4 linked regions of the Homo sapiens genome follow. The protein of the gene in region 1 interacts with the protein of each later gene in a pairwise test. Each region holds a gene or a part of one and is shown in the gene's direction. Other genes may lie near its edges.

Region 1 (8,641 bases):
GTTGGACCCTTTTAGCTGTGCTAATTATGCAGTGATGGTGGCAGTTAACTATGCAAACAGGTATTTGAAAGAATGAACAGGACTCAAGCAAAGAGATCTAATGCCATGAAATTAGATAAGATCCTTTAGAAAGAGATCATAGGGTATAAAAGGTGAAGAACGGGTTTCAGAGAGGAGAGCAGGGTAAGAGGTGCTATTTAAATGGGACGTAGTAACAGCCAGAGTTGAGGAAGGAGTCGGGTGGAGAAGAAGCATGGAAGCTGAAGAAGTGGGGTGAATTCAAGAACGAGATGGCCAGCTGTGTCAAGATTATCAGAGAGACCAGGGAAATGGAAAATAATTTTATTTCTTTTTTTTTTTTTTTTCGAGACAGAGTCTCTGTCACCCAGGCTGGAGTGCAGTGGTGTGATCTCGGCTCACTGGAACCTCCGCCTCCCGGGTTCAAGCAATTCTCCTGCCTCAGCCTTCTGAGTAGCTGGGATTACAGGTGCAAGCCACCATGCCTAGCTAATTTTTGTATTTTTAGTAGAGACGGGGTTTCACCATGTTGGTCAGGCTGTTCTCAAACTCTTGACCTTGTGATCCGCCCGCCTCAGCCTTCCAAAGTGACGGGATTACAGGGGTGAGCCACCGTGCCTAGCCGGAAAATAATTTTAAATAACACCGGAAGTTCAAAAAATTTAAGGAGTGAAAGCAAGTAACCATAAAAGGCAAGAGGAAACTCAGGGAGGGGAAAGGCAAATGTCTTCATTGCACATATTTTATTTTGTTTCTTAATTTGGGTGGTTGATACATGGGTACTTATTCTTCTGTAAGCCTAAAGGTTTCATAATTAACAAATCACCTGTACGAAGAAGCAGATGGAAAAGACCTGATGATACTGCAGCTTCTCTAAAGACCTAGGGTTCACAGTGTTTTAATTGACTGCAAGGTAATGAGGCTGTCTTAGGAGACAAGTTCTACCACTTCAGCACTTTCAGATATCCAGATTATTGTGCTTATTTCAGAGTGCCAAATTTTAAGAAGGGACTAATAAGCAATCTGAAAAACATACTACCTCAAAGGCTACCAGGGTTGTGAAAGATTTAGATCATGCCATAATATTAAAGGCAGCAGGGATATTTATCTGGAGATAAGGCCAGGAGATGGTAAGAGAAAGAGTAATATCCAGAGTAGGTGTCTTTAAATATTTGTGAAAGGCTTCCCTGCAACGGAATGTAGAAAAAGGCACTGGTGTTCACTCATAATGAATTTTCTCATTATTGAAAGGCTACACAAATGGCACGGACTACCAAGGAAGGTAGTGAGTTTCCTCTGCCTGGGAGAACAGTTTTCTTTGGCAGGTAGTTCCGACTCCACGGGCTAAAAGTTCCTTCTAATTTAAGACTCTGTATATTCATAACAATGATAGCTTCAGGTAAGTCAGATGCATGACTTATATCATTTTGAAGTTGGAAGCAAAGAAGAAGGAGAGTTTTCTTAGAGCTTTTCATATTTGAAGGACTAAGGAACACAGGCAGACATCTGTCATGTAATTTCCAGGCATTTAGGTTACTAGTACTATGAGCAAGTTAACTTTGTCCTAAGCCCTACCATTTGGAGAATATATTTTGAATGTTGGCTTTCAATATGTTAAGGTTGAACATTAAATATTTTTGATATGATTCCAAAGGAAAGAGTACTAGCATGCTTATGTGTTTATTATTTGTATCTATACATAGGCTCACTATATGTTGTAGCCCTTCAGAGTATTTTATAAGAATTACTGTGATCTCAAATAGTAATCATACTTTCCCTCAGCCTCCTTCCTAGCATTGGGCATAATATTTTAGAAAGGTAAGAAAAAAGAGTTTTTATTACTAGACTTCTTCTAATATGCAAACTAGGTCACCCAAAGATTAGGAGGAAACTGGTGTGATACGTGGAGAGTTTCACGTTTCCTAGTTACAAATATGCTTAGTAAGACATTTGTAATAAAGCAGACTGTCCTTATACTGAAGTCAAAGAATAAAGATGAGTGATTTTTTTCCCCACACACTGCATCCAGATACAATCACTGTTCACATACTCTTTCAGATAAGTGAATTATGATTTTTATGTTGTGCAGAGACAGAGTAAACTATTGCTATTTCTTCCAATCAGTGTACTAGGAATACCCTTCCATATTAACATCATATTTATTGCCACATATATTGAGCATAGCACAATTTATTTAGCTTCCAATTTTTCACTATTATAAAATGCTGCCATGAGCAACATTGTATATCTACCTTGCGTGCTTGTTCAATAGTTTCCTCAGGATAAATTTCTGGAAGGGAGATTGTTGAGTCCAAAGATAAAACATGCATAGGGCCTTTATACAAACATGAAATCTCTTTGCCTTTGAGAAAGTTCATACAACTTTATTCTGCCAGGAGCTACGTACAAGAGTTCCTTTTCCCCAACTCAGAAGAATCCTGAATACTGTTACTCTTTTACATCCTTTACAATTTAATAGTTAGAAAAGAAAATCTCATTGATTTTATTTCTGTTTCTTATATTATCAATGAGCTTGAACAAATTAGTTTATTTTTTCATTTTTAAGACCGTATGTTTTTAGCTCACTCTTCTGTTGGGTTATTTTCTCTATATCTTACTGATATTTATTAATCCTATCTGTCATGTTAACCTTTCACGGTTCATCAATTTCCTTTTTATTTTTTCCACACAGAACATTTATATTTCTATGTGTTTAAATCTCCCAGTCTTTTGATAGTTTTGGCCTTTTTTTTTGTTTTGTTTTTCTTTTTTTGAGATGGAGTCTCACTCTGTCACCCAGGCTGGAGTGCAGTGGCACGATCTCAGCTCACTTCAACCTCCGCCTTCCGGACTCAAGCGATTCTCCTGCATCAGCCTTCTGAGTAGCTGGGACTACAGGTGCGTGATACCACACGCAGCTAATTTTTGTATTTTTTGGTAGAGACGGGGTTTCACCATATTGGCCAGGCTGGTCTCGACTCCTGACCTCGTGATCCACCCACCTCGGCCTCCCAAAGTGCTGGGATTACAGGAGTGAGCCATCACGCCTGGCCTTTTTGTTTTGTTTTGTTTTGTTTTTTGAGATGGAGTCTTGCTCTGTTGCCCAGGCTAGAGTGCAATGGTGCAGTCTCAGCTCACTGCAACCTCTGCCTCCTGGGCTCGAGTGATTCTCCTCCTCAGCCTCTCGAGCAGCTGGGACTACAGGCACCTGCCATCATGACTGGCTAATTTTTGTATTTTTAGTAGAGATGGGGTTTCACCATGTTGGCCAGGCTGGTCTTGAACTCCTGAACTTGTGATCTGCCACCTCGGCCTCCCAAAGTGCTGGGACTACAGGTGTGAGCCACCACGCCGGGTCTAGTTTTGGCCTTTCTTATGCTTCCCTATCTAGAGAGTATTTCAATGTTGCCTTTTGTTTTCTTAAACTTTTATTGTTTCAATTATTTACGCCTAAACTTTAATTTATCTGGCTTGGTTCATGGGAGATAGGGTTTTATCTATTTTTTTCTCTCTTTCAAATGATAAACTATCAGTTTTCCCTAAATCAGTGAAACATGCTTTCCCAATAAAATAAAATCCCATCTTTGTCATATACAAAATTATTATATTTGGCTTTTTGTCTGGGCTTTCTAAAGGTTTCATTCTCTGCATTAGTATTTTGCTTTTCCATTATATCTACATGGCCTGATTTTAGCTTAGTTTATGATTTAGAAGTCAAAAAATTTAAAGTAGTTACTCAGAAAATGTTAACTCTTGTTGGAGGTTTGCAAACAAGAAGGAGGAAATTTTGTCAGTGAGGAGAGTCAAAAGGACTTATACTTGATTCTGAAGCTGGGTAGCATTCATGCCAGAAGGAATTTCCTGATGTCTGGAATCTTAAACTATATTTTGCTCTACCAGTTAGTTACATGATACTTTGTTTTTGCAAACCTCCTTCTGCTTGATTACCTGTGGATGATCTTTCCAAGAAGCTGCTTAACAAGATAGTTATTCTGCTGTTTATATTATACCTTCTTCATGTTTATTTACAAAGTTTGAGTGTTTTTTTTTTTCAATCAAAAGATGGTGTTTCTTTTGTTTTACAACTGCATAGGTTCCATTCAATATATAACTTATTGGAGACAAAAAGATACTTTGAAGAAACTCTGGGAATCATAGTGCAACATGTTTTAGGTTATATGTAGTCCTCTGGCGTATGTGTCTTCTGGGTCCCATAAGGGAAAAAGGCCGGTGGCAGTGGTTCCCCCTTACACATTGGAGAATGTTTGAGTAATGTCATCCTATTTGGGTGAGACTAGTGTTAGTAGTGACATCTATTGTTCCAGAGCCTGTGGGCAGAACTGTGGAGTTTGGGGTGTGGTCTATAGGTATCTCTGAGTCTCACTAACACTCCAGAGAACAGGGATGTGGAGGAGGCTGTGACTTCCCACTTGTCTTACTGGTGGATACCTAAGTCTTGTCCCAGAAACATTCCTTAGCTGCTACTTTTCAGCCTCCTGCTCAAGGCTATATACCCCACTAGATTATTAATTTTTTATTCTTTTAGTTTTAATCACTCTTGAGAGTATACTTTGCCAACCTTCTATTTTTGAATGCCAGGGGCAGGGTGTAGTTCTGAAGTAAGGCCAGCTTTTTCTTATAAATTCTTTGCAGCTTCCTTTTATTTCACATTAATCAGCCCTGATTGCCTTGTGCCATCAAGGCCCTACCACCAGCCTTGAACAGACTTATGCCCCTGATGTTTTCCTGGCCTCATATCCCTGATCCCAAAATGTTCTCATGCTAAGTTTTTATCCCTTCGCCTCTCTTTCCTCTCATGACAGAATTGTTTGGAGTGATGGAAAAAAAGTGATACAGTATTTTAATGAAGAAACACTCTCTTTTTTTTTTTTTTTTTTTTTTGAGACGGAGTCTCGCTCTGTCGCCCAGCCTGGAGTGCAGTGGCATGATCTTGGCTCACTGCAAGCTCCACCTCCCAGGTTCACTCCATTCTCCTGCCTCAGCCTCCCAAGTAGCTGGGACTACAGGCACCCGCCACCATGCCTGGCTAATTTTTTGTATTTTTAGTAGAGATGGAGTTTCACTGTTTTAGCCAGGATGGTCTCGATCTCCTGACCTTGTGATTCGCCCGCCTTGGCCTCCCAAAGTGCTGGGATTACAGGAGTGAGCCACTGCGCCCGGCCCATGAAGAAACACTCTCTATGGTCAAGTTTTATCACCTGTCAGGGAATTCAAACACAGGCATATTAGCTACTGGAAGCATTCTGGGCAGCCTAGACTTACTTGCCCTGACCTGGATGTAAAGCTCCACTTGCCCTGAATTTGCTTCTTTTATTTCTGCAGTAGAGTGGACAGCAGGGTGGTTAGCACTTTACATTTTGTGAACTCTCATCAGTGGATGTGTTTGTATTTAATTCTACTTAAATATTATGAGTTTTTTTCTTATTAAAGACCTGACCTTAACATGCTTCTTAGGGAATAGCCTATGTATTCACCAAGAGAAATTGAACTCAGCAGGTTAAAATCTGACTGGAATAACTGAATCAAGAGGTTTGTAGAAAGCTTTAAGTTCTCAGTAGGGATTTTAGTCATTTGAACAAGGATTTGAAATAAGTCCAGCAGGTGCCTAAGAATACATTTAGTAGTCTTTTTTTTTTTTTTTTTAAGTTCTGATTAAAAGAGCTTTTTCTGCTTTTCCTTTTGTCCTAAATACCAGTAGTAAAACCAAGGAGATTTCTCTGGAATTCTTGAGGGCCCTTCCCCACCTTTTCTGGGGAAGATGCTGTTTTAGTATAGAATTGGCTTTTATTTTTATTTTTAAAAAATCTAATGGAGTTTTTGGGGTACTTTTGTTTGGGCTTTGTTGTTGTTGTTGTTGTTGTTGTTTTGTTTTGTTTTGTTTTGTTTTTGAGACAGAGTCTTGCTATGTCGCCCAGGCTGGAGTGCAGTGGTGCAATCTGAGCTCACTGCAACCTCTGCCTCCTGGGCTCAAGTGATTCTCCTGCCTCAGCCATCCGAGTAGCTAGGATTATAGGTACCAACCACCACGGCCAGCTAGTTTTTGTATTTTTAGTAGAGACGGGGTTTTACCATGTTGGCCAGGCTGGTATTGAACCCCTCACCTCAGGTGATCTGCCTGCCTCAGCCTCCCAAAGTGCTGGAATTACAGACATGAGCCACAGCACCCAGTCAAATCCAATAGAGTTTAATAATTGCATTCAAGGGGTAACCTTAACGTTTGACCAACTCAAATTCAACAAACCAAAATCCCTTAAGCAATTGGTCCCCTTTCCTACTTAAATAGAATTGGCTTTTAGGTAAATCACCAGAGAGCTATCAACTGAGCAAGAAAAATGACCACTGTTATTTGGACTAAAATGTTTCTTTTCTGTCTATAGAACTTTTATAAAAGCTGAGTTACATTTATGCGGTGCTTGTGTGGTAGTGTGATTGAGGTTGCATTCATTTTTTAACTGAGTTGATAATGTGCTCAGAAGCTGGTGTGTAACCTACCTACTTCTGTTGCTTTTCTCCCTGCTCAGGTGTGGTTTCAGAATTGTAGAGCACGCCACAAGAAACACGTCAGTCCTAATCACTCATCCTCCACCCCAGTCACAGCAGTCCCACCCTCCAGGCTGTCTCCACCCATGTTAGAAGAAATGGCTTATTCTGCCTACGTGCCCCAAGATGGAACGATGTTAACTGCGCTGCATAGTTATATGGATGGTAGGTATCCCAACATTTAACAGCTGTCTCCCAGGCAATCAGCAACTGGTAACTTCTAATATTAGATTATTGATACAATTCACATTTTGAAATATTACCTCAGTAGTAGCTGAAAAATATTGTGGGGGGTGCAGTAGAGAGCAAAATTATCCAAACATTTTTATTTCTGTGATTACATTTTAAGGAAGAAGTTTAATACTCACTTTGCAGCTAAGATGCAAATATTAATAATGACTCAATGCTTGATCTTTACTTAGAAATTTTTTGTTTGTTTTTACCGGTAAATATTTAAATACTTTATTTCCTGTGATCAGAGCAAGTGTTCACTCAGATCTTTAGATGGGAGTTTAATAAGTTTTGTTAAAGAGTTGTTTTTTATAGAAGAAAATCATACATTTAGAAGAGTGCATACGTAATAACTATTCAGCTTGATGAATTAATAAAATGAATGTATCCATATAGATATTGCCCAAAGTAGCAGATATAATTAGCATTTCAGAAGCCTCTCTTATGTCTCCTTCCAATTATTATCCTTTTCTCCCAAAGTAACATGGCACTGATTTCTAAAACCACCCTTTAGTTTTGCCCTTTTTGAACCACACAGAATGTATTTTGTGTCTCACTTCTTTCAATTACATTGTGAGATTCACCTATATTATTGTGAGAATCTGTTATTTGTTTTCATTGTTATATAGAAATCCACTGTAGGAATATACCACAATTTATCCATTTCCTGGTTAATAGATATTTGTGTTTTTTCCAGTTTGTGCTTTTATGAATATGCTGCTATGGACTTTATTGTACATGCTTTTTGTGCACATTAATTCACATTTCTACTAGATATGTACCTGGGAGTGGGACATAAGGTCATGGGCTACACATATGCTCAACTTCAGTCATTCTGACAGATAGTTTTTCACAGTGGTTGAACCAGTTTACACCTTGACCAGCAGCAAGGTTCAAGGTGCTTCACATCCTCACCAACACTTGGTATGGTGTAACTTCCTGATATTAGCAAATTTGATGATTGTGCAGTGCAATCTTATTTTAATTTGCCTTTCCCTGATGACTGAGCATTTTTTCATCAGGTATTTGTATATTCTCTTTTGTGAAGAGCTGTACAAGTCTTTTTGTCTTTTGGCCTACTGGCTTGTCTTTATTATTTATTTAAATGGATTTGCTTAATTTCTTCATGTAATCTGCATATAAAGCTTTTTGATAATTGTATGTGCTTAGAATATTTTCTCCTACTTAGTTGCTTGGCTTTTTCTACTCTCTTAATGGAATGTTTCATTGAGCACAAGTTCCTAATTTTAATGTAGTTTATTTCATCATTTTTCCTTCATGAGCCATGCTTTTTTTGGTGACATGTGCAAGAAATTGTTTATACTCAAAGATAATGAAGATATATCTTCTATGATATCATCTAGAAACTTTGTTTTACCTTTGCTGTGTAGATTTACAATTCATTTGGAACTGAATTTTGTGTGTGGTGTGAGGTAGAAAGTGAAGCTTTTTTGTTATGTTGATGAAAATAGAAAATGTCCAGCTTCTCTGTAGAGACATATTTGCCATAAATCAAATGTCCGTATGTTGTGTCAATTTCTGTACCTTCTGTTCTATTTTATTGGTCTATTTATTTTTGTGTTGCTACTTAATCATTCTAATCATGGTAGGTCTATAATTTTTAATATATGATAATGTGTTTCTATTTTGTTGTTATTCAAGTTTGTATTGCCCATTCTTGGCCCTTTATGTTTTCATAAAATTTACCTACTTGTCTATTTCTACCCCAAAAGGGAAAACAATTAAGATTTTGATACAATCTATTACAGCAAATATATTGATCAGTTTTAGGAAATTGCCATCTTAACAGTATTTTCTTCCATACCATGAA
Region 2 (8,641 bases), on another chromosome or scaffold:
GGGGTGGCTGCCGGGCGTAGGGGCTCCTCACTTCTCAGACGGGGCGGCTGCCGGGCGGAGGGGCTCCTCACTTCTCAGACGGGGCGGTTGCCAGGCGGAGGGTCTCCTCACTTCTCAGATGGGGCGGCCGGGCAGAGACGCTCCTCACCTCCCAGACGGGGTCGCGGCTGGGCGCCCTCATATCCCAGACGGGGCGGCGGGGCAGAGGCGCTCCCCACATCTCAGGCGATGGGCGGCTGGGCAGAGACGCTCCTCACTTCCTAGACGGGATGGCGGCCAGGAAGAGGCGCTCCTCACTTTCCAGACTGGGCAGCCAGGCAGAGGGGCTCCTCACGTCCCAGACGATGGGCAGCCACGCAGAGACGCTCCTCACTTCCCAGATGGGGTGGCGGCCGGGCAGAGGCTGCAATCTCGGCACTTTGGGAGGCCAAGGCAGGCGGCTGGGAGGTGGAGGTTGTAGCGAGCCGAGATCACGCCACTGCACTCCAGCCTGGGCACCATTGAGCACTGAGTGAACCAGACTCTGTCTGCAATCCCGGCACCTCGGGAGGCCGAGGCTGGCGGATCACTCGCGGTTAGGAGCTGGAGACCAGCCCGGCCAACACAGCGAAACCCCGTCTCCACCAAAAAAGTACGAAAACCAGTCAGGCGTGGCGGCGCGCGCCTGTAATCGCAGGCACTCGGCAGGCTGAGGCAGGAGAATCAGGCAGGGAGGTTGCAGTGAGCCAAGATGGCAGCAGTACAGTCCAGCTTCTGCTCGGCATCAGAGGGAGACCGTGGAAAGAGAGGGAGAGGGAGACCATGGGCCGTGGGGAGAGGGAGAGGGAGAGGGAGCGGGAGAGGGAGAGGGAGACTAAACTAAAATTTTTCTAAGCGAGGCCCATCTTTTTTCTTTGCTAGTAAAATTAGTCAGTACTTATCCATGTTCAAGTTTGTCATGGCTTAGAAAAAAAGATTAAGCAAGGTCAAAAGGCAACATAAAGAACTTAAGAAAGTAGTGCTCTTCCCACCTTCCCAAGGGCTGAGTAGGACTTACTGGGCCAGGTGTTAAATTAGTTAGCAGGTAACAATTAAAGGAGCTGGAAAATAATTATCATAAAATAATATAAAATTGGAAGTAATTCTTCTCAAGAGCTAGGTATTGAAAGGCAGTGGCCTTAAGAACTCAACAAGTAGGGTAGCTTTTACTGTCTAAAAACTTTAGGCTGGGTGTGGTGGCTCATGCCTGTAGTCCCAGCACTTTGGGAGGCTGAGGCAGGCGGATCCCTTGAGGTCAGGAGTTTGAGACCAGCCTAGCCAACATGGCAAAATTCCATCTCTCCAAAAAATGCAAAAATTAGCCAGGTGTGGTGGTGCACACTTGTAGTCCCAGCTACTCAGGAGGCTGAGGCGGGAGTATCACTTGAGCCCAGGTGGTCGAGGCTGCAGTGAGCCATGTTCATGCCACTGGATTCAAGCATGGGCAACAGAGTGAGACACTGTCTCAACAACCCAAAACACAAAAACTTTATATAGATAGCCTTGCTTAAGAATTTCTAATTTTGGCCAGGCTCCGTGGCTCACGCCTGTAATCCCAGCACTTTGAGAGGCTAAGGGTGGCCGGATCACCTGAGGTCAGGAGTTTGAGACCAGCCTGGCCAACATAGTGAAACCCTGTCGCTACTAAAAATACAAAAATTAGCTGGGTGTGGTAGTGGGCACCTGTAATCCCAGCTACTCTGGAGGCTGAGGTAGGAGAATTGCTTGAACCTGGGAGCGGAGGTTGCAGTGAGCTGAGATCGTGCCACTGCATTCCAGCCTGGGTGGCAAAGCGAGACTCTGTCTCAAAAAAAAAAAAAAAAAAAAAGGAATTTCCAATTTTAATTAAGGAGATACACTGAAGGTTATCAATACGTAATTATGCATAGAAAGTAGACTTTTTATACTTCCCAATTAATTTCCTATGTAGTTTTTATATCACTTTATATAAAAAAACTGAAAATTACTCTGTTAGTAACTAATTTGTTTTATGAATGATACATAATTTGAAGCATAATTGTAATTTAAATGTTTATTTGAAACATTAGCTTACTAATAAAAAAAATTGAGACATATTTAAAAACACCCAATTTAGTTGGGTTAATCCACTGTAACTGTTTGATTGCAGATGTTTTCCCACACTGATGGGCAGCTAACTGAGGTAGTGCTATCCAGTACAGTCAACTTTCAATTATCTGTGGTAATGGGAAATGACAATGCATGGATAATCCTAAAACAAAATATTTTATACAGTACCTTCCTGTCATCTGCTGTGGCCTGAGCATGTGCTTGGGTTCATGAGGGAGATGTGGGAGTGGGGCTCAGGCTTGCAAAGGAGCTGGGAGTCAGTATGATTATCTCAAGGCCATAAGAGGTATCCTTAAGGAACCTGGGTTTGGCACTGTGTGGCTGAAGTGTCATGGGGAAAGCCTGCAGCATGCAAGATCAGCTTGGCAATATCAGTGAGAAGGATGGGGAAGCTAATTAATAAGGAACTGTGGGAGAATAGTTGTTTATTAAGTCCTATACAATTGCAGTGATATATCTTGGTGTGTTTTTTGGTTAATGGGATCTGTAGCAAACAATAATTATATTAATTGTGTATTTGAATTAGTTTTGGTCATCTTTGATTGCTAGCAGAACACATTTTTTACTTGCCACAGGTGAGTGCTGTTATTGAGGTCTCTTCTAAATAAGTAGGTTTATTGTCATATAACTAGTAACTTAAAAAACCCAGAATAAATTTGAAATACTTTTCTTACTTTTAAAATTCATCCTAAATATCAGTGTTGAACTTGTACTTCCAAAATTTAACTTAATGAAATTTAACATTGTAATGTCAAAGAATATCATGAGGGCAAATGCCATAATTACTGATACTGTGAATTTGATGTAGGAAAAATATAGTAGCCATATTTTATTTAAGAATATGTTACAGGAGCTTTCCTAAATTTCTTTTACAACTGACAATTGTCTACGAATTTATGAATGTTAAAGCTGCATGATAGATGTGAGGAGGGAGTGTTTATTATTCTATCTAATTTGAATATGCTTATTTTCTACAAGTGAAAGCTATAAAAAAATTGAAGCAGATGATTGCTGAAAACCTTAGAATCTTCTGGACCAACCTGAGAATCTTCTGCTTGTTTATGAAATAGATTTAGTGCTCTCTGTCAAATTATTCAAACTCCAAATAGAACCGTAGCCATTTTCTAAAGGCATGTTTTCTTCTGCCCACAGGCAATACTGCAGTTCAACCCCGTGTGGTAGTATGATGGCAAGAATGCAAATTATACCGTTGTTAGATTACCTTTATTATTATAGATGTTTTTTAAAAGTTATTTACTTAAAATATCTATACTTAGGCAAATTAGAGGCGTTGATCTTGAGTCGACTTTTGTGACCAAATTTGGAAACAATTGCAGTTTGAGATTGAATGAGGTAAGGGACCAGCTAATTAGTCCTTCCTCTATAGATCTTTGGTTCTCAACCAGGGAAGTTTTGCCCCCAAGGGGACATTTGGCAATGTTAGACATTTTTGGTTGTCACATCTCATGGTGGGGGAGTGCTACAGTTATCTACCTGGATGCTTTTCTATATTCTGCAATCCTCAAGACAGCAGCCTTCACCCCTGCCCACAACAAAGAATTATCAAGCCCAAAATGTCAATAGTGCCACTGTTGAGTTACCCTGCCCCTAGTGTTTCTAAGATGTAGGCATTCTTTGAAGTAGACAATTAAAAACATCATATAGCCAAACTAAATTATTTTGACTTTCTGTATACTTATGCTGTTTAAAAAACATGCCTTCAGTTTTTACTGAGATTTGATATAAAAAGCAACAACAAATATATTTTTAAAGAATTTAATCCTGGGAAACATTTCACTTTCCTGATGAATTGATATATTTCCTCGTAACTCATTATGTTTCTATTTTGCCTTCTCTCCCTGGAGGCTTAGTGCCAATTTTTTTGCTCTATTATAACAATGACCCTTTATTTTAGGCTTATTGTTATCTTTCTATTTACTGTATTGGTCTTCCCTTTTTTTTTTTTTTTTTTTACTGTTATGGTCTATGGGTTTGGGCTAAGTGTGTGTTTGTGTGTATATGAAGAGAACATGTGGGTAATATGTAAATGTCCCCAATCCCTAGACCAAGTCACATCTCTATAAGATCAAATGAACAGATTTCTAATTTATATTTTAATGCTTTTTTAAAGTCTCAATTTTTCAAACAAGAAATATGTGCTTGTTATAAAATATTACTGTGTGTTAGTGTAAATAATAAGTGGAAGATTACTTCTCCCTGTTCATTCTCTGGAGATTTATTAATATTTCTAGTATGTGCCAGGCATAGTGGCTCATGCCTATAATCCCAGCACTTTGGGAGACTGAGGCAGGAGCATTGTTTGAGGTCAGGAGTTCAAGACCATCCTGGGCAACACAGTGACATCCCATCTCTACAAAAAATAAAATTAGCTGGGCATGGTGGTACATGCCTGTAGTCCTAGCTACTCAGGAGGCTGAGGTAAGAGGATGCTTGAGCCTAGGAGTTCAAGACTACAGTATGCTATGATTGTCCCATTGCACTCCAGCCTCTGTGACAGAGTGAGAACCTGTTGCAAAAAAATGTATATTTATAGTATGCAGATGTGAAATAGAAGCTATAAGCTTGTAATTCTGTTATGGCTGCTCAGGTTTACACTCTTATAGTTTCATTTCTGAATAAGTTAAGTACATTTCTAAAAACTGAGGAGAATAAAAACAATGTCTTGAGGATTGTGTTATCTGATGAACCTTTTATTGATCTGACGAAGACCCATTTTATAAAAAAAGTGTCATATTTTATTTTTTGAAGCATACTTGATGGTATGAAATGGTATTTCTAGCCCATACTTTTAATGATTTAGAATGACTCACTAAACTTTATTCAAGGCCAGTACATTGGCTTACTCCTGTAATCCCAGCACTTTGGGAGGCCAAGGTGGGTGGATCACTTGAGCTTAGGAGTTCAAGACCTGCCTGGGCAACATGGAAAAACCCCAACTCTACAGACAGTAGAGAAATTAGGCCAGCATGGTGGAACACGCCTGTAGTCCCAGCTCCTTAGGAAGCTCAGGCGGGAGAATCATTTCAGCCTGAGAGGTCGAGGATGCAGTGAGCCATGATCGGGCCAGTCCACTCCAGCCTGGGCGACAGAGTGAGATACTGTCTCATAAAAATAAAATTTAATCCAAATGTGATTAATTTCCATTTCTCTAAAGTTAAAAATTAAGTGAATTCCAATATCATCACTAATATGCAAGCTTAACTTTTCTGTTACAGTTTTCCCAAGCAGTTGAAGAGGAAAGCTATTCTCATAATTAGCCTAACATGCGTAGAAAAGTTTAGAGATTATTTTTTTTCTTTTTCTTTTTCTTTTCTTTTCTTTTTTTTTTTTAAGATGGAGTCTCGCTCTGTTGCCCAGGCTGGAGTGCAGTGGCACAATCTCGGCTCATTGCAAGCTCTGCCTCCTGGGTTCACGCCATTCTCCTGCCTCAGCCCCCCAAGTAGCTGGGACTACAGGCACCCGCCACCATGCCCGGCTAATTTTTGTATTTTTAGTAGAGACGGGGTTTCACCGTGTTAGCCAGGATGGTCTCGATCTCCGGACTTTGTGATCCGCCCACCTTGGCCTCCCAAAGTGCTGGGATTATAGGCGTGAGCCACCATGCCTGGCTGAGATTGTTTTTTTCTTGAATACTTAAAATTGTAAGATTACTACCATGGTTAGTTTTTTATTTGATGTTCCATTTATACATTCGTTAGCTCTGGAACATATAGATCCTGTTGTTTTTAAGGTCTCTTGGTTGTAGAGAAATAAGAGGCTTTGAATTTGTTTCAGGCTTACCTCATACTTGAGGCAGTTTAGAAGGATAAATGATCAGTGTTCAGATTTCTTAAAGCAGTATTTTATAATGTCATGATGATTATCTTTTCACTGTTACTACCAGGTTCTTTTAGAAAGGGGAAATTGAAGTAGGACATTGAAGTGGGACTGGGGAGGAGTTAGCAAAAAATGTGTCTGTTGATTGCTGCTTGAGCCAGGAATTGGTGGTAAGAGATGTGAACCATTTTAGTGAAGTGATTTTTCAAACTCTTTTGACTGCGACACACAGGAAAAAATTTTTTTTACGTTGTATTCAGCACATAATTCATGTATATATTTATATATATAATAAACAGACTTTTCAAGAAACAGTATTTTACCTTACTATGTGTACATGCAGTCTGATGTTTCTGTTCTATTTGATTTGAAATAATTGCTGCTTACATACCACTAAATTGCAGCTTGCAGTTTAAAAAATTTTGCTTTAGTGTACTAATTACCTGTGTATGTGGAGAAATTCACCCTCTGTTAGCAAATAGAAGATTGTAATTACAATACATTCTTACTCGTATGTCTTATGTGAGCATTTAATAAATATAAATAAATTAATGAAATATTTTACAGGCATTTTGTCATGATAAAATATAAGCAGCTTTGCCCAAGCAACTTGGTCTTTTGGGGTCAAAAAATGGCTTTTTTGTTTTTTGACACAGGGTCTTGCTCTGTCACCCAGGCTAGAGTGCAGTGGTGCATTCATGGCTCACTGCAGCTTTGACCTCCTGGACTCAAGCAGTTCTCTTATTTCAGCCTCTCAGTTAGCTGGGATTACAGGCATGTGCTGTCATACCCAGCTACTTTTTGTAGAGACGGGGTTTCGCCATGTTGCCCAGGCTGGTCATGAACTCCTGGGATCAAGCAATCTGCCCACCTTGGCCTCCCAAAGTGCTTGGATTACGGGCCTGAGCCACTGTGCCTGGCTTTATTTTTAACATTATATTTCAGCCCTCTTTCTTTTTAAATAAAAAGATGTTTAAACATGAATAGAAATTATACTAATAGGTCATTAGAAATGTAACTAGATTAATTTCGGGGGCTTTCTTAATCACTATATTAGTCTAAATCTTAATGGAGAGGGAAAAATTAGCATGCTTTAACCCAGGGGTTGGCAAACCTTTTCTGTAAAGGAGCCAGCTAATATATACTTCAGTTTTTGTGGGCCATACCATCTCTGTTGTGGCTCATCTCTGCCATTACAGTGTAAAGCCTAGACAGATAAGCAAGTGAGCGGCATGGCTGTATTCCAATAAAACTTTACTTATGGAAAAGCAAATTTGAATTTTATATAATTTTCACGTGAAGGTTTTTTTTGGTTGTTCTTTTCTCCAAACATTAAAAAATGTAAACACCACTCTTAGCTTGTGGGCTGTAAAAATCAGATGATGGGCCAGATTTGGCCTGTGGGCCATGGTTTACCAGCCCTTGCTTTAACCTAAAAATGGAGAAAATCAGTAGTCCAGAAGAATAAAAATTTAGCAAGCATAGTTTAGAATATGAGTAGCAATATTAAATCTCTAGGCATATATATTTTGATTTTTGTGGATATTAGAACTATACATTTTTGTGTTGTTTTTTACATTATATTTTGCAGACAGTTGATATTCATAAAGAGAAAGTTGCAAGAAGAGAAATTGGTATTTTGACTACCAATAAAAACACTTCAAGGACACATAAGATTATTGCTCCAGCCAACCTTGAACGACCAGTTCGTTATATTAGAAAACCTATTGACTATACAATTCTAGATGATATTGGACATGGAGTAAAGGTAGGTATAATTTTTTTCAAGCTTTTAAAAGTAGTAACCCATAATGAAACCAACTCTTGAGAAAATTAAGCTTTTTATCTGTCTTTCTTTCCTAGAGGACAAAGTCTTGGCCCAGTTGTGGTTGTGAAGATTCCTTGCTACTATAACTGTTTTACCCTTTTTGCTTTTTCTTAGTGATGTATTCTCAAGTTTTAAACAGTCATCTTTGAATGAATTATATTTGCTTGGTTATGATAATACCTCCTATGGTTTGAGTAAATAAGTGTCGTGTAATCTTTCCAATTTTAATTTAATATGACTGATTAAAAAATCATTCATCATGTTATTATGAAAGTGTTTACCTTATCTCAAGTATTTATCAGCAGACTTTTGGCATTAGTTTTCAAAAACAAGATATATTAATAGACATGTACTTTGAATTTTTCTAAAATAATTTTATCCCAACATTTTGGGCAAGAATAGTGTTAGGTAAAAGTGATAGGTGAATTAATATTGCCACTGCTTTTGAGTGTGTAGCTATTACATATTTTGGCTGTCTTTTAAGATGTATTTGGGTGCCTAGAACATGCAAATTTCATTTAAATTGGTGTTTGAACTTAATGATTCAGAGCTTTAGCTGAGTATTAATTTATGTCTGATCAGTAGTTTGAAAGACAGTGACTTATCAGATGTGACTAAATAAATATACATGCTTATAATGATACTGTACAGTTCATGTAGTTGATTTTTTTTCTAATATAAACATACTTAAAAAACACTGTTATGGATGGAAATCAGTTAAATCTAAATTTAATGGAGATCTAGGTAAAAAGAAAATATACACTGTAAATTTATTTTTAAAATCTCTTTGTCTTCAGGGTTTTGATGCAAGCACTATTATCTGGAATATGATATTTAATTTAACTTTTTTGAGACAGGGTCTCACTCTGT
Region 3 (8,641 bases), on another chromosome or scaffold:
TTGTGGTTTTTACTGTTCAGACTATTCAGAAGTTCCATGACGTGGCATCCATTGATGATGGTTTTGCTGAGGTTGAAATGTGAGGGTTTTGTGGCAGGTGTGTGGAAGCAGATCCCTTAGCTAAGAGAGCGCCTGCTCAACCTGCCAGGCGTGTGCTGGGAACTTCCAGGAGTTGCCTCGTTTAATTCTCACAGCCATCCTGGGAGGTAGGCGCTGTCTGCCCCAGGTGGGAGGCCAGGAACTGTGGCTGAGAGAGGTTAAGTACCGAGCTCAAGTCATTCATAGAGTCGCCAGTGGAGCCGCAATTTTAAGGCTGACTCAAAGCCTCTGAGCCAGTTACCTCGGCTGTCAAATGGAGATAATAATCCCTGCTGACCTCACGGTCGCTCTGAAGGACAAAAGAGAATCAGTTCAATCCAGTAAACAATTCTCTCTCTCCCTCTTACTCCCCTCGCACACATGCACACACACCCCACAGATATAATGGATTTTAGTTTTTAGGCATCAAATGACTTTTGTGCCTTATTAATATTATCCACTGAATCAAAAACAGCAAGCTGAAAAATTCATCTCAAGGAAGAGAAAATAAGATTGTTGGGAATGGTGAGAAAGGAAACATGGTTTTTGAAAATTGATTCCAGGGAAGATAGGCTAGTTTGAATGCCAGTAGGGAGCCATCAGAAGAAGTAGTTTTACACTGATTTTTAACAATATTGGAGTTGCTTAAGGCAATGCAATAGAGAGGCAGTTTCTGCCCTTTTAAAGCCTGACTTCACTTTCTGAATGTGTGTTCTGATCTAGCAGGGTTTTTTTTTTTTTTCTTTTAAGATGGTCCCAGCTTGACTGCATTCTCAGATCCATCAGATAAACGTTAGGGCTTCACTGCTGTGCTGAGAGGCCCCAGCCCCTGGGGTTCTCTCATAGAAACAACTGGAAAGAAAGGAAATGCCTTGGGCAGCAGCAGCAGCAGCTGTCTTCTGATTCTGCTTTCCGCCCTGCCTTCCTTACCAAGAGAAAGTACAGACACGGACGGCTTGAGTCACTTAGGCACTTAGGAGTTGTTTTTCACACGTGTGGTGTTTTCGTCACCATTACTATTGTGGGAAAGAAGACAACTCAGGCATCGTTTCGTATTCACTCATCTGTGTGGGTGACATGTGGGTTTTGGCTCATTTCTGCATATTTGTGTGCAAAGGAGAGTTTTTTAGTAAACAGTCCCATTACTTAGCTGTTCTTGTAACTCTGAAAACCCAACTGAACTATAATTAAACTTTGACTTGGTGACTCTGCAAACAGGCTATGATTCTTTTGTTTCTTTTCTCCTTTTAACCCATAGTTGATGTATCTAACCTAACAGAATTTTCAGAGAAAAGAAGTGAAATAAGAACTAAAAATAAATTTTTATGTCTTTAAAAATGAGAGGTTTTTTTTTTTTTTTTGGCTTTTGGAAGGTGAGTATCAAAAACCTGTACTTAATGTTACCTTGGAATTATTTCTAGATGTTTCTTATATCCTTTTGTCCCAAGTAAAATTATTACCTTCTCAGTGCGTAGTTTTTCTTATTTATTACTTCTAGTACCAAGTGTAGAGCTAAGCGTAGAGGAGACGCTTCACAGGTGCGCATTGTCGTGATTGCAGACGCCTGCCTGTACTTGTGGGGTTTTTCTCAGTTTTAGTACGTGATGACTTTTCTTTCTATAACAGGTATTTGAAATGGACATCGCTAAACAGTTACAAGCTTATGAAGTTGAGTACCACGTCCTTCAAGAAGAACTTATCGATTCCTCTCCTCTCAGTGACAACCAAAGAATGGATAAATTAGAGAAAACCAACAGCAGCTTACGCAAACAGAACCTTGACCTCCTTGAACAGTTGCAGGTAGAGCATATTTATAAAGCAGCTTCCTGAATCACAAATATATGGTAGTTCATTAACTCACCAAAGGCAACAGCAGGCTGGGCTTTCCCATGACCAGAGGACCTTTCCCACCCTGATCTGTTTATAGTTGGGATCAAAGGTATCCCGGGAGAATGGGTCCTTTTTATTATGGAGCAGACAGATTGTCCTTTGCTAAGGTCAGGCAGTCCCAGAGCTTTCTGAGAGGCTGTTTCTGCACTTAACTCTTTTAGGGGACAGGCCCAGAGATGAACTTGGATTCAGGATGCCGTGGCCTGTTAGCTGAATGCCAGCCGTTGTCATTACTCAAAGAGAATCTAAGAGCTTTTAACTTCTATGAGCAAAACCAGCTAGGTCCACAGAGGGATGGTAAAGGAGGAAAGTAACACAGAAATAAATATAACAAACCAGAAGAGATGATAATTCTTTGTGAGTCCTTGGTGCATATACAAAGATTTGATTAATGAAGGTCTCAGTTCTCCCCTCTAGAAACTTCCATTTCAACACGGATATACTCAGGTGAGGACATACAGAAGAAAGACCAGTTGAGACTGTGCACGCAGGAGGGTGTGCAGAGCAAGCACTGAGGTGCAGCACGGAGACCAGAGCTGGCCAGGTCCAGCATCACCCCCACCCCCACATCACCCAGGCACACTGCCCAAAAGAACACCTAACTGCGGAGTGCAGCTCTTTTGTCAATCTGATGGCATGAAGCAACCATATGTTCTACTTTTTTCTACTTTTTTTAATGTCACAAGTGTGTAGCAGTGCTGTCCCTGTTAAGGAGTTGTTTTGAGGGTGTTTTTAAAAGTTGTTTTTGAGTGGCTGTGGATAAAAATACATATTTTTGCCGAAATTTTTATGGTGTTCCTGGGCTGTCCTGAGAATAAGTTCCATTCTGATCTAAGCCTCTGATTTTTCTTCATAGAAAGATGAGCTTTGCAGACACAAGCTTGGCAGCAAGGTGAGAAAGGCCAGCCTAGTGAGTCAAGCTATCTGAAATGCATTCCTCCCAGCGGGCATTCCATCCCAGCATACCCTATCAGATATGTGAAAGAGAGGAACCAAGACCGAATGCTATTCCTGCCCAGCCCTAATAACCACTCACATTCTGAAATTTAACTTCTTTTTTTCCCCTGAGATGTCCTAACTGAAAATATGCCTGTATACAATTTACCCTGGAAGTCTCAGCCATCACTCAAGGGAAGTCTCCAGAGGGTGAAGAGCCTGTCTGGCCTGTAGGGGTACACAGTGTAGGTGGTCATTTTAAATGGCTTCCAAGCCAATGATAGGTCCCTGAAATATAACATGGTGGAAACTTCTAATAAAGCTCACATTTGCATTGAAGTGTTTAGCTTGTTAAGATAGGCAGTTCTCAAATAAAAGGTTTGTTTTATTGGGTAAATGACCTTGTAGTTTTTTGGTGACAGAGCATAGAAAGTAATTTCATGCTGCTCCTGTGCTATTGTTTTTGTGAAGACAGGGAGCTGTGAAAAACTGCTTAGCTACCTACATTCCTCAATAAAGGCATCAGACAGTAATTGGTGATTACAGATGTTCTCCCTGGAATGGTCGTTCTCTTGACCAAGTAGTCCTACACTTCTGGAAGGATCATTCAGAACTGTGGTCTATGCCAACCCACCAGTAGTTCCTGAGTCCCTGCAGTGCTGAGTGCTGGGGGCCACCAAGTTGAGTAAGACACTGCAGCTCTCAAAGAGTTGGATCTAGGATTGTATTGTATCGATTTGTGGTGTTTGGATATAGTTTTTCCATGATCCCCTACGAAAATATGCCTCTCATATGTAAGAATCATGCCTCCTCCGTGTACACTTTTCAGACACTGACAAGGAAGGGTGTTCAATACAGTACTGAATTTTCATATAGCTTTTCTGGGGGGGCCAAAATACCAAAATCAACCCATTTCCTACCTTTATTCTGTCCATAAAATTGTTAGAAATATCAAAATCCCATTTCATTCCCTGTTAAATACATGTGAACGTTGTCTAGACGCTGGAGAGCAAATTCTACCACCTCTTTTGTTCAGCAGTACATCAGACGATTGCATAGACGTGCCAGATGGAACCAAATAATAATGCACATGGATTTGTCATAATCCGTACAAGTCATTGACGCCCACACTGAGCCAGGTGCTGTGGGAGACAGGACCATGTGTGAAAGAGAAGACATGCTTGCTTCTATAAAAGCATCGGTGTTATTGAGGAGACCTGACATTAATGCAGAATAGCAAATGACCATGCAAATTAATTCACTACTAACTAAGCTGCAGGTTGCACCTCGGAATGCAGAGGGGCTTCAAAGTGATGAGGGTAGGCCCTGAGCCAGGCCCTGACGATGGGTGGATTTTGAGGATCAGAGAGTACAGCTTAGAGAGATACCCCAAGTGGGACCACCCCTTGCCCAGTAGGCTGACAAACTAAGGCTCTTGGTCCCTTTTTCATATTTTGGGTGTTCTAGTGGCCCAGCCAGAGCTAGACTTCGAGTCATGAATTTTCTGGCACAAGTGTTGTCACATTCAAAAAAGTATTTTCTTTGTTTGAAAAATGAAAAATATATATATATGTGTGTGTGTATATATATGTGTGTGTGTGTGTATATATGTGTGTGTGTATATATACGTGTGTGTGTATATGTGTGTGTGTGTGTGTGTGTGTGTGTGTATATATGTGTATATATATACCATTTTTCCCACCTAAAATGGAGCATGGCAAATCTGGACTGGATTAGTGAGATAGACCAAGTCACAGAGCACTCCAGGATGCAGCTGTGAGCTGGGGAACAGGTCAGAAAGGCCTCAGGGACATCAGCATACATGTTGGAGTTTCTGCAGTTTTCTTAGGGAACCCTTTAATGTCACTAGAGCTAACACACTTGTCACCTGGGAAGCAAGCCTGCCAGAGCAAATTAGAGAGACGAGGGACAGTTGCTAGAAAGATACACCTGGAAGTTCTATTTAACTAGCATTAATTATGTGCTAGGTGCTGAGGATGTAGACTGAGTGAGATCCTCATTCCTCCTCTGTAGGGTGGAAGAGAGGATATTGCTTGTCTCCATGGCTCGTAGTGAACAGTCAGTGAGACCAGGCACATAAACCTCTTAGCAGAACACTTGGCCTTTCTAAGGACTCCATATGTGTTCCGGGGTAAATGCCTGTGTTTCTTGACGTAGTGATGTCTTGTTCCTCTAGACATCACTAACTTTACACAGTAGCTTTAGATGGCGTGGACGTGAATAAATGCAACTTAGGTTTTCTTGTTGGTTTCTTTTTGAGTATCATTGTGTTTGTAAAGAATTTCAGATTAGAGGATTGTTACCACGTGGGCCTTCAGGAGGAAACTGTTTTGAGTTTTTGTCAGCCCGAAATCGATTTGTGCGTTTAAGTATATGTGCTCATCAAAACAGGCCAGGCTCTGCTGCAGTAACAAACTTACAAGTCTCCGAGGCTTGGCACAACGGAAGTCTTTGTGTCACTGACGCCCACTTCAGCTTTGTGTTGCTGAAGCATTCTTTGGCCCTATCCAAGCTGTCCCTCTGGTGGTGGTGCCTGGGGGTTTGGGTTCCCTCTGTGTTGTGATCCACCATCTCAGCATCGGCTTCCACAGCAGCCATAGCAGGAGAAGAAAATGCTGGGGGCTCTCAGGGTGCTTTTAAGGGCCTGGCCACCGACCTGCAAGGGGTGCGAGTTGCCTTCCTGTGTGGCCAGAACTGATGATAAACTGTAGACTCATCCCTGCTGAAACTCGGCTCCAGAGTGCTCCCAAGGCTGGACAGCGTGTGGGCACTGGATCCCACCTGTGTTAGCACTGGCAATTGTATTCTCATTTCTTCTTTTATTCTCCAGGTGGCAAATGGTAGGATCCAAAGCCTTGAGGCCACCATTGAGAAGCTCCTGAGCAGTGAGAGCAAGCTGAAGCAGGCCATGCTTACCTTAGAACTGGAGCGGTCGGCCCTGCTGCAGACGGTGGAGGAGCTGCGGCGGCGGAGCGCAGAGCCCAGCGACCGGGAGCCTGAGTGCACGCAGCCCGAGCCCACGGGCGACTGACAGCTCTGCAGGAGAGATTGCAACACCATCCCACACTGTCCAGGCCTTAACTGAGAGGGACAGAAGACGCTGGAAGGAGAGAAGGAAGCGGGAAGTGTGCTTCTCAGGGAGGAAACCGGCTTGCCAGCAAGTAGATTCTTACGAACTCCAACTTGCAATTCAGGGGGCATGTCCCAGTGTTTTTTTTGTTGTTTTTAGATACTAAATCGTCCCTTCTCCAGTCCTGATTACTGTACACAGTAGCTTTAGATGGCGTGGACGTGAATAAATGCAACTTATGTTTTCTTGTTGGTTCCTTTTTGAGTGTCACTGTGTTTGTAAAGAGCATTCACAATACGGTGGAATTTCAAAAGCTGGAAGAGCTCGAGATCATGCCTCAGGCAAAGGCGTGGGTCCATCGTTCTTCCGAGAGGGTTTGTGTGGCGACTACACCCTCAGCGTCCCTGGCAAGGTGCAGTTGGCTCTCGCCCATTCTTGTTATGGAAACCTAAGATGATCATTGGGAAGATCAGTGATCTTGGGTCATTGATCCCTGGCTCAGAGGATAGCGGTTTCCATCATAAACCAAGATGATGAGTTCAGCCTTTATCCCTCGTGGTTCCACTAGATGTAACTTAAAGGAGTTAACATTTGAGGACTTTGTTCTACATCAGATTTTACTATTTGAATGTTTAAGATCACTTTATTGAATTTGAAGATCATCAAATTAAATAAAATGATTTATTTAATTTGGATATCCTGATCACTGTCAAGTGAAATGGATCTCTCTCTTTGGTATTTAAGGAAGTTTGTCTTTAAAAAAAAAATAGAGTGTTTTCATACATTTTTGCTTATCCCATAAGTACAGTTGATCAAAGTCATAGTAGGTAAATGCTTTATGGGACAGCTGACACCTTTTAGACCCTACCAGGTATTGCTAGCATGTGAGCTGCAGTTGTGGGGTCTGAGATATTTCTTTGTGGTAGTTTCATACCCATACTATAGAGTCATGTATTTATTTTTGCCTGTTGTGTGATGTAATGCAATCATGTTCCTTTGAGTCTCCATCCCTTGGAAATCTGACTTCTTGCAGAAGGAGTAGGCACATCAAGATATTCAGGGGTGCCCCAAGAGTCTGGGACTTTCAAAAAAAAAAGATCAGGCTGAAACTGCAGTCAGATTTATGACAGCTGACAGTTTTTCAGAGGTCGCACACAGTGACTCTCCTCTCTCAGGATGACGAGGACCTGTGCCTTCAACAAGCAAAATGCTGCTCACGGTTGTCCTGCTTGCAGCCAGTCACTGTGTAAAGCCTCTCTGATGTGCACTTAAGAGTGGGTTGCTTTCTCACAAAGATGGGGTTCTGTGCAGTCACAGGTCACTTCCTTGACAACACAATCATTTCTGATCTTTATCACTGTAACCACGTCTTCTATTCCATAGGAGTTTCTTTTGATTCTCTCAGTTGCGGGGGGCATCTCTTAATCCTGGGGTAAAAGGAGAGATTGCCATACTTAGACTCACTGTGAGTCTCCCCGGCCATTTCACGAGGAGACCACAGTGCTGCCACCAGTGCCTAAACAGGTGGCTGGCATTCGAGACTTCCTCCTGTTCCCTGGGTCAGAGGATAGCGGTTTCCATCATAAACCAAGATGATGAGTTCAGCCTTTATCCCTCGTGGTTCCGCTAGATGTAACTTATAGGAGTTAACATTTGAGGACTTTGTTCTGCATCAGATCTTACTATTTGAATGTTTACTGTTGGATTTTGGGCATCTTATTACTGTTACTCAAAAACATTGACTCTGCATCAAGAAAGAAACAAGAAAGCAATAAAACAAGAAATAATTCATGCTCACATTTTTATGGTGGTTTTTTTTTTTTTTTTAACTTTGGATTTTTGCTTTTCAGCCCAGGAGTAAAGGAATGCCTTATGAACACCTGTGGCCTACGTGTGGTCATGACCCAACCATCAGTGAGATTATTTGAGATATTGGTGTCTGCATCCAGTGTTGTTATCTGAGTGTTTATTACGTAAGTTGTAACACCTCTACACAGGGTGTGAGTTTAGCACTGATGAGACCAGCTCCATCATTGTATGTGGCAGTGAGTCCTGTTACGAGATTGGGTTGGGCAGAAAGGACTGTTGACATGAGCCTGTGGATGTAGGTTGGACAGTCTCAGCCTGTGACTGACTAGGCAAGGAGCGGAGAGGCAACTGTGTGAGGATTCTCAGAGCCAAATTTTTAAGCCATGTTTTGGGTTATATTTCCCCCAACACTCATTTGTGCACTTGGTGGTGTCAATCTTTAGATGCCATTTATGTCTCTTAAGACATTATGAGGCCTCAAGAAGTGTACTACTACCTGGAACAGGATGGGACTCTCTTCAGCTTGCACACTCGGTTCGGCTCCCTCTCAGGGGTGGCCTGTAGATAGAACAACAATGTCCATTTGGAGGTTTGTGTGTCTGGTTTGGTAAACAGGAGAAGAGTTGCTCCAAGTGCCATGGGATCCTGGATTTTGTTACAGAATTAGACCAAACTCAACTGTGTGAAGCGCTGGAGAAGTGAAGATTCAGAAGGTGTTTGAATCAGGCTAAGTCACCAGGTCGTCTTTCAGAAGCAAAGCACAAGGCCACTGCAGAAGTGGGCCTGGGCAGGTGACGTGGCGGGGGCTCTGTGACCACCTCTGTGGGTCTGCAGCCA
Region 4 (6,512 bases), on another chromosome or scaffold:
GCTCCAAGTTGACCTGGGATTCCGACAGCTTTCCCTTCCACTTTGAGGGATTAAAACATTCTACTGGCTGGGCGCAGTGGCTCACGCCTGTAATCCCAGCACTTTGGGAGGCTGAAGCAGGTGGATCACAAGGTCAGGAGTTCAAGACCAGCCTGGCCAATATGGTGAAACCCCATCTCTACTAAAAGTACGAAAATTAGCCAGGCATGGTGATGCACGCCTGTAGTCCCAGCTACTTGGGAGGCCGAGGCAGAAGAATCACTTGAACCTGGGAGGCGGAGGTTGCAGTGAGCTAAGATCGTGCCACTGGACTCCAGCCTGGGCGACAGAGCGAGACTCTGTCTCAGAAAAAAAAAAAAAAATCTACCAAGATCCATTGTTTAGGACTAGGCTTACTATCTTATTCTGCCATTCTTTTAATTTGACTGAGAGTCACAGATTATACTGAGAACTACGTAACTATTATGCCAAATTCCCTCAAGCGCAAGAAAGTGTGGCAAGGAGAACTGAGCCCCACCTGATGCTGAGGAAGGAAGTGGAGAGAGAGAGGATGGAGGCATTGAACATTCATCTTACTGGTTGTCTGACCCTGCACAGTGGGAACTACTGCCTTGGAGCAGAAATCTATAGATGATTTGAGGGAACTAGAAGTGAGAGGTGGACCACATTTAGACCTGCATTTGGGGGTTTACAGGTTCACATATAATCTATGAGAAAAGAACCCAGAGACTATAAAAAGAACATTATATATGAGATTTGAAGGGAATCATGAGTAGCTCTCCGAAAATTTTAAGGTGCCCCAGAAAGCTGGCACCCTATATGGCAATGGGCTTTATTTTTCTGCCACCCCTGTCGTCTAGGGTTCACAGTGCCTCACTGGGCATTTGAGATGTTGCCAAGGCAGTGGAAAATAAAGAGTATTTACTCATCCGTCAATGAAATTGTTAGCATAAGTGAATCACAGTGATGACATAATATGTTCTTTATGTTGAAAATTAACAGGGTAAGGAGGAGTTTGAGAGGCAACAGAAAGAGCTATTGGAAAAAGAGAATATCATGAAACAGAACAAGATGCAGCTGGAACATCATCAGGTAAGTTCAATCAGAGCAAAAACTGCTTGGCATTGGAAAGATTTCCCACCTAGCACTAAGGAAAGGTATCACTTCAAGAGATTATGATTTTGATTCTTCCAGCTCACTGGCAGGAATCAGCTCCAAAGCACGGAATGGGGTTTAAAAGCAAAGAGAAGGTTTATGACCTTGTTAGTTCAACTGGGTGTACCTGGGTTCCATCTAAACGGCAATTTTTTTAAAGGCTAAACCTGCATATCTAACATATGAGGACTATTTGGGTTAAGGCATTTGGTCTCAAGAAACAAGACCCATTCAAGCTAGCCTAAGCAAGCAGGTTTATAGTAAAGCCACAGTAGGGGAATTCAGTAACAGAAAGTGAAGATAGAGCCAGGTCTGGGGAGAACTAGAACTGTAAATTATCTCTCCTTCTTGTAGTTCCTTTGCTTCTTTCTATCAGTCTACTTCACTCTCACCTATTTTCTGGTTTTCTCTAATTATCTACTCATTTGGCTCCCCTGTAACTTTGCAGAACCCATAAATGGCCACTCAGAACTTCTATAGATGGCTTTTCATCTCGGCTTCCTCTTCCGATGGTTAGCTCCCTTCTCTTGTTCATCAGATTCCCAAGAAAGAGTCTGATTGGGCCACGTTGATTGGGCCATTTCTCTTTCTCTCTCTCTCTCTCTCTTTCTGTCTCTACCTCGCTATTTGTCTCTCTTTCGCCAGCAACACAAGCCTATGGTTTGCCTGGCCTTGGTCCAATCTAAAGGTAGGAGAGCAGAATTCAATGTTTTCAACATATATCCAGGCCTATCTACTGAGGACTTTGGGCAGGGCATGTTCATTCAAAAGCTGGGTATGAGTAGGGGAGATAATGACGACTATTGCTAGAACAAGGGCATACAAATAAAGAGAGATGGATTGAGGATTTATTTACAAGCCTTTTAAGATGAAATGAAGTGAAATGGCATGTAATGACATGAAATGGCATGCTATATTTAGGAAATCTGAGTTCTAATCCTTTCTGGCCAACCAACTATGTCAAGTCAGGTAACCTCCCCGAGCTTCAGTTACTTCCCTATAAAATGGGAAAGTACCCCCCCCATCTAATGACATGATATATTGATGAACATATTTGCATAAAGCCTAAGATATATAAAATATAATCCATTATGATTAAATACCTTGGAATATCACCTTGTACCTATTTATGTTTGCCTTGGCATCTGGCAAGGTAAGACTGCAGGGCTTTGGGGAACTTGTAGAAACCATAGCAATCGCTAAGAAGAAAACAGATTCTAGAAAAGTAAAGCTGTTGAAGGCTGGGCACGGTGGCTCACACCTGTAATCCCAGCACTTTGGGAGGCCGAGACGGGCGGATCATGAGGTCAGGAGATCGAGACCATCCTGGCTAACACAATGAAACCCCGTCTCACTAAAAATACAAAAAATTAGCCAGGCATGGTGGCGGGCGCCTGTAGTCCCAGCTACTTGGGAGGCTGAGGCAGGAGAATGGTGTGAACCTGGGAGGCGGAGCTTGCAGTGAGCCAAGATCGTGCCACTGCACTCCAGCCTGGGTGACAGAGCAAGACTCTGTCTCAAAAAAAAAGAAAAGTAAAGTAAAGCTGGCTGTGCATCTCTCAGAGAAGCTGGGGAAGCTGGGTGAGGTGATCACTGCTCCAGCTCATCCCTACGTCCAGGTGGGAGATTAACTGAGTCTGAAGCTCAGGTCACAGATAGTCCTTATCTGCAGAAGAGAGGTCTCTCTTGAGTCTTAGTGGAATCCCTAGAAATTATTATAATTGCAATTTAAATAATACACCATTTGGTAGCAATGAGGAAAGAAGGAAGAAAGCCAGCACCTGATGCATCTGACTCTGGGTAAAACCCCCTTCTTTTAACAGCTCTGGGGGACTAAATATTATGATGCACAATTCCCATTCAGACTGCCTTAGAAACTTTTTTTCCTTAAGTGCTCATATATTTATATGCATTAATCTTCCTGTAGTGCTGGATCATAACATGTCTATCAATCTTGACAGAAAGAGTAGGATAAACAGAAAGGGGTCATGAATGGTCATTTCATCTGAGCATCCTGAGATAGTCGAGGCTTTCTCCGAGAAGGAGCAAACTGTCAGTGACTTACTTGACAAGGAGGTCACTACATTTGGTTTTCCCTTGCCACCCCTCAACATTAATAAACATTTACATAGAGCCTACTACATACCAAACTATTATAAGCATTTTGTAAACGTTAACTCATTTAACCTCCATAAAGGTGTAGGTAACAGGGCTGCGGTTTAAACACTATGCTACCTTCTAGCCAGAGGGTACAAGAGACCAGTAGTCCAATCATAGAAGGTCTGAGCTTGAGGATCATCTTTCCCAACGTCTACATTTTACAATTTAGGAAAGCAAGGCAGCTTGACCCAGGCTTTACAGCTCACATGCATCTGACAGTTACTAGCGACTAAAATCCCTGTCTTTTAACTCCAAGGCCTAGTGAATTTCCATTGCAACACACTCCCTTGCTCTAATGAGATCTGCTTTCGTCTTCCTTGCAGCTGAGCCAGTTCCAGCTGTTGGAACAAGAGATTACAAAGCCCGTGGAGAATGACATCTCGAAGTGGAAGCCCTCTCAGAGCCTACCCACCACAAACAGTGGCGTGAGTGCTCAGGATCGGCAGTTGCTGTGCTTCTACTATGACCAATGTGAGACCCATTTCATTTCCCTTCTCAACGCCATTGACGCACTCTTCAGTTGTGTCAGCTCAGCCCAGCCCCCGCGAATCTTCGTGGCACACAGCAAGTTTGTCATCCTCAGTGCACACAAACTGGTGTTCATTGGAGACACGCTGACACGGCAGGTGACTGCCCAGGACATTCGCAACAAAGTCATGAACTCCAGCAACCAGCTCTGCGAGCAGCTCAAGACCATAGTCATGGCAACCAAGATGGCCGCCCTCCATTACCCCAGCACCACGGCCCTGCAGGAAATGGTGCACCAAGTGACAGACCTTTCTAGAAATGCCCAGCTGTTCAAGCGCTCTTTGCTGGAGATGGCAACGTTCTGAGAAGAAAAAAAAGAGGAAGGGGACTGCGTTAACGGTTACTAAGGAAAACTGGAAATACTGTCTGGTTTTTGTAAATGTTATCTATTTTTGTAGATATTTTATATAAAAATGAAATATTTTAACATTTTATGGGTCAGTCAACTTTCAGAAATTCAGGGAGCTGGAGAGGGAAATCTTTTTTTTTCCCCCTGAGTGGTTCTTATGTATACATAGAAGTATCTGAGACATAAACTGTACAGAAAACTTGTCCACGTGCTTTTGTATGCCCATGTATTCATGTTTGTTTGTAGATGTTTGTCTGATGCATTTCATTAAAAAAAAAACCATGAATTACGAAGCACCTTAGTAAGCACCTTCTAATGCTGCATTTTTTTTGTTGTTGTTAAAAACATACCAGCTGGTTATAATATTGTTCTCCACGTCCTTGTGATGATTCTGAGCCTGGCACTCCCAAATCTGGGAAGCATAGTTTATTTGCAAGTGTTCACCTTCCAAATCATGAGGCATAGCATGACTTATTCTTGTTTGGAAAACTCTTTTCAAAACTGACCATCTTAAACACATGATGGCCAAGTGCCCAAAAGCCCTCTTGCGGAGCAAATTTCAGAATATATATGTGGATCCAAGCTCTGATAGTTCAGGTGCTGGAGGGAAGAGAGACCTGTGTGTTTAGAGGCCAGGACCACAGTTAGGATTGGGTTGTTTCAATACTGAGAGACAGCTACAATAAAAGGAGAGCAATTGCCTCCCTGGGGCTGTTCAATCTTCTGCATTTGTGAGTGGTTCAGTCATGAGGTTTTCCAAAAGATGTTTTTAGAGTTGTAAAAACCATATTTGCAGCAAAGATTTACAAAGGCGTATCAGACTATGATTGTTCACCAAAATAGGGGAATGGTTTGATCCGCCAGTTGCAAGTAGAGGCCTTTCTGACTCTTAATATTCACTTTGGTGCTACTACCCCCATTACCTGAGGGAAACTGGCCAGGTCCTTGATCATGGAACTATAGAGCTACCAGGACATATCCTGCTCTCTAAGGGAATTTATTGCTATCTTGCACCTTCTTTAAAACTCACATATGCAGACCTGACACTCAAGAGTGGCTAGCTACACAGAGTCCATCTAATTTTTGCAACTTCCTGTGGCCAGTGTGTATAACCCCTTCCACTATCTCACAGATAGTCACAGCGTCCATTCCATAGTCTGTCTCCTCACATCTGTTAGTATTGACACAGCACAGACACCACAAGCCATCAGGTTCTTCATGGGGCAGGTGAAATACTTCTACCCCATGGGTAAATGTATTCACATATTACCAAGAGAAGAAGCACATTATCTATGATCTTTTGGCCCAGTTCTTATTTAGCATTTTTATTCCAGCCTACTTGGAAACATGTTTTTATTTGCAATATATGCCTGACTGAATTAAGCTTGCTTGTTTTAAACAACCAAATCATTGGAACAGAAAAGGATTTAAAAAACAAGAATGCATGATCTCAGAGTGATTAAAAAAAAATCAGTGGAAATAAATGATCATAGAAGGTGCTTTTCAAAACAACTGCTATTATAATTCTCAAAGTCCTACTCTGCCAAAAGAAGATTAAAAGTCATACATTACATTACAAGGAAATGTTCATGTGGGAAGAGGGTTGCTGAAAATCAACAACGCTTGAAGTTAAAAAGTGTGTCTTTGTAGATTTCATTGTATAATGTGTATTTCTTAGGAGATGGCTGACTTGATTGATCTACGCTAAGTGGAGACATTTCACATTTTTAAAACCAAATGTTCAATCTGTATTACTCTTTGCCGTCTTGTATGTAGAGGCTATTTTTAAATCATTAAATTTTTAGATCTCTGTTTTCATAGCCACTGGGTTTTCTTTTTCATACTCCTCTGTCACAGAATTAAATATTGGCTTACTTTGGTACTCCTAATATAAAAAGTTAAATTATGATTATTTTAGCAATGCTATAGGTCTGGATTTTTTTAGGAAAATTGAGGGTTTGGTTTTCTCTGTATATGTGTCACTTCCAAGTGTATTTGCATTCAAAGAAAATTCTAGAATCTGTGAACATTATCAAATTCAAATATCTGGAACAAGACTTGTGTTCACCAAAAAACCCATACACTCAGTAACATATAGGATGATTTGTTTTCATAATATGGATGTTACCAGTCATGTGGTTTTTAGAATCAAAGAAAATTTTTCTATTTGTTTTGGAATAGTCATAAAGAAATAATTTAAAGCAAACTATATTTAATGAAAATAAGAGATTTGTAATCATGTAATTATCATTTTTAATGGTTGGCCCACTCTTTTATTCAGGTATCCCACTGAGATTTACAGACAAATTATTTAAATGTA

What was found.
Region 2: the proteins of LHX8 (region 1) and ABI2 interact in binary tests that used the Homo sapiens proteins (3 or more experiments, as listed by UniProt).
Region 3: the proteins of LHX8 (region 1) and TBC1D1 interact in binary tests that used the Homo sapiens proteins (3 or more experiments, as listed by UniProt).
Region 4: the proteins of LHX8 (region 1) and NEDD9 interact in binary tests that used the Homo sapiens proteins (3 or more experiments, as listed by UniProt).

Annotation. Positions count from the first base shown.
Region 1 is NC_000001.11:75,150,333-75,158,973, forward strand, and holds part of LHX8 (LIM/homeobox protein Lhx8), read left to right. Parts: intron 1-6,560; coding exon 6,561-6,744; intron 6,745-8,641. UniProt on the Homo sapiens protein: Transcription factor involved in differentiation of certain neurons and mesenchymal cells.
Region 2 is NC_000002.12:203,372,674-203,381,314, forward strand, and holds part of ABI2 (abl interactor 2), read left to right. Parts: intron 1-3,258; exon of another isoform or gene 3,259-3,342; coding exon of another isoform or gene 3,343-3,459; intron 3,460-7,534; coding exon 7,535-7,711; intron 7,712-8,641. UniProt on the Homo sapiens protein: Regulator of actin cytoskeleton dynamics underlying cell motility and adhesion. Functions as a component of the WAVE complex, which activates actin nucleating machinery Arp2/3 to drive lamellipodia formation.
Region 3 is NC_000004.12:38,131,380-38,140,020, forward strand, and holds the end of TBC1D1 (TBC1 domain family member 1), read left to right. Parts: intron 1-1,704; coding exon 1,705-1,878; intron 1,879-5,755; coding exon 5,756-5,956; 3' UTR 5,957-7,794; downstream 7,795-8,641. UniProt on the Homo sapiens protein: May act as a GTPase-activating protein for Rab family protein(s). May play a role in the cell cycle and differentiation of various tissues.
Region 4 is NC_000006.12:11,182,798-11,189,309, reverse strand, and holds the end of NEDD9 (enhancer of filamentation 1), read left to right. Parts: intron 1-1,002; coding exon 1,003-1,092; intron 1,093-3,638; coding exon 3,639-4,148; 3' UTR 4,149-6,012; downstream 6,013-6,512. UniProt on the Homo sapiens protein: Scaffolding protein which plays a central coordinating role for tyrosine-kinase-based signaling related to cell adhesion. As a focal adhesion protein, plays a role in embryonic fibroblast migration.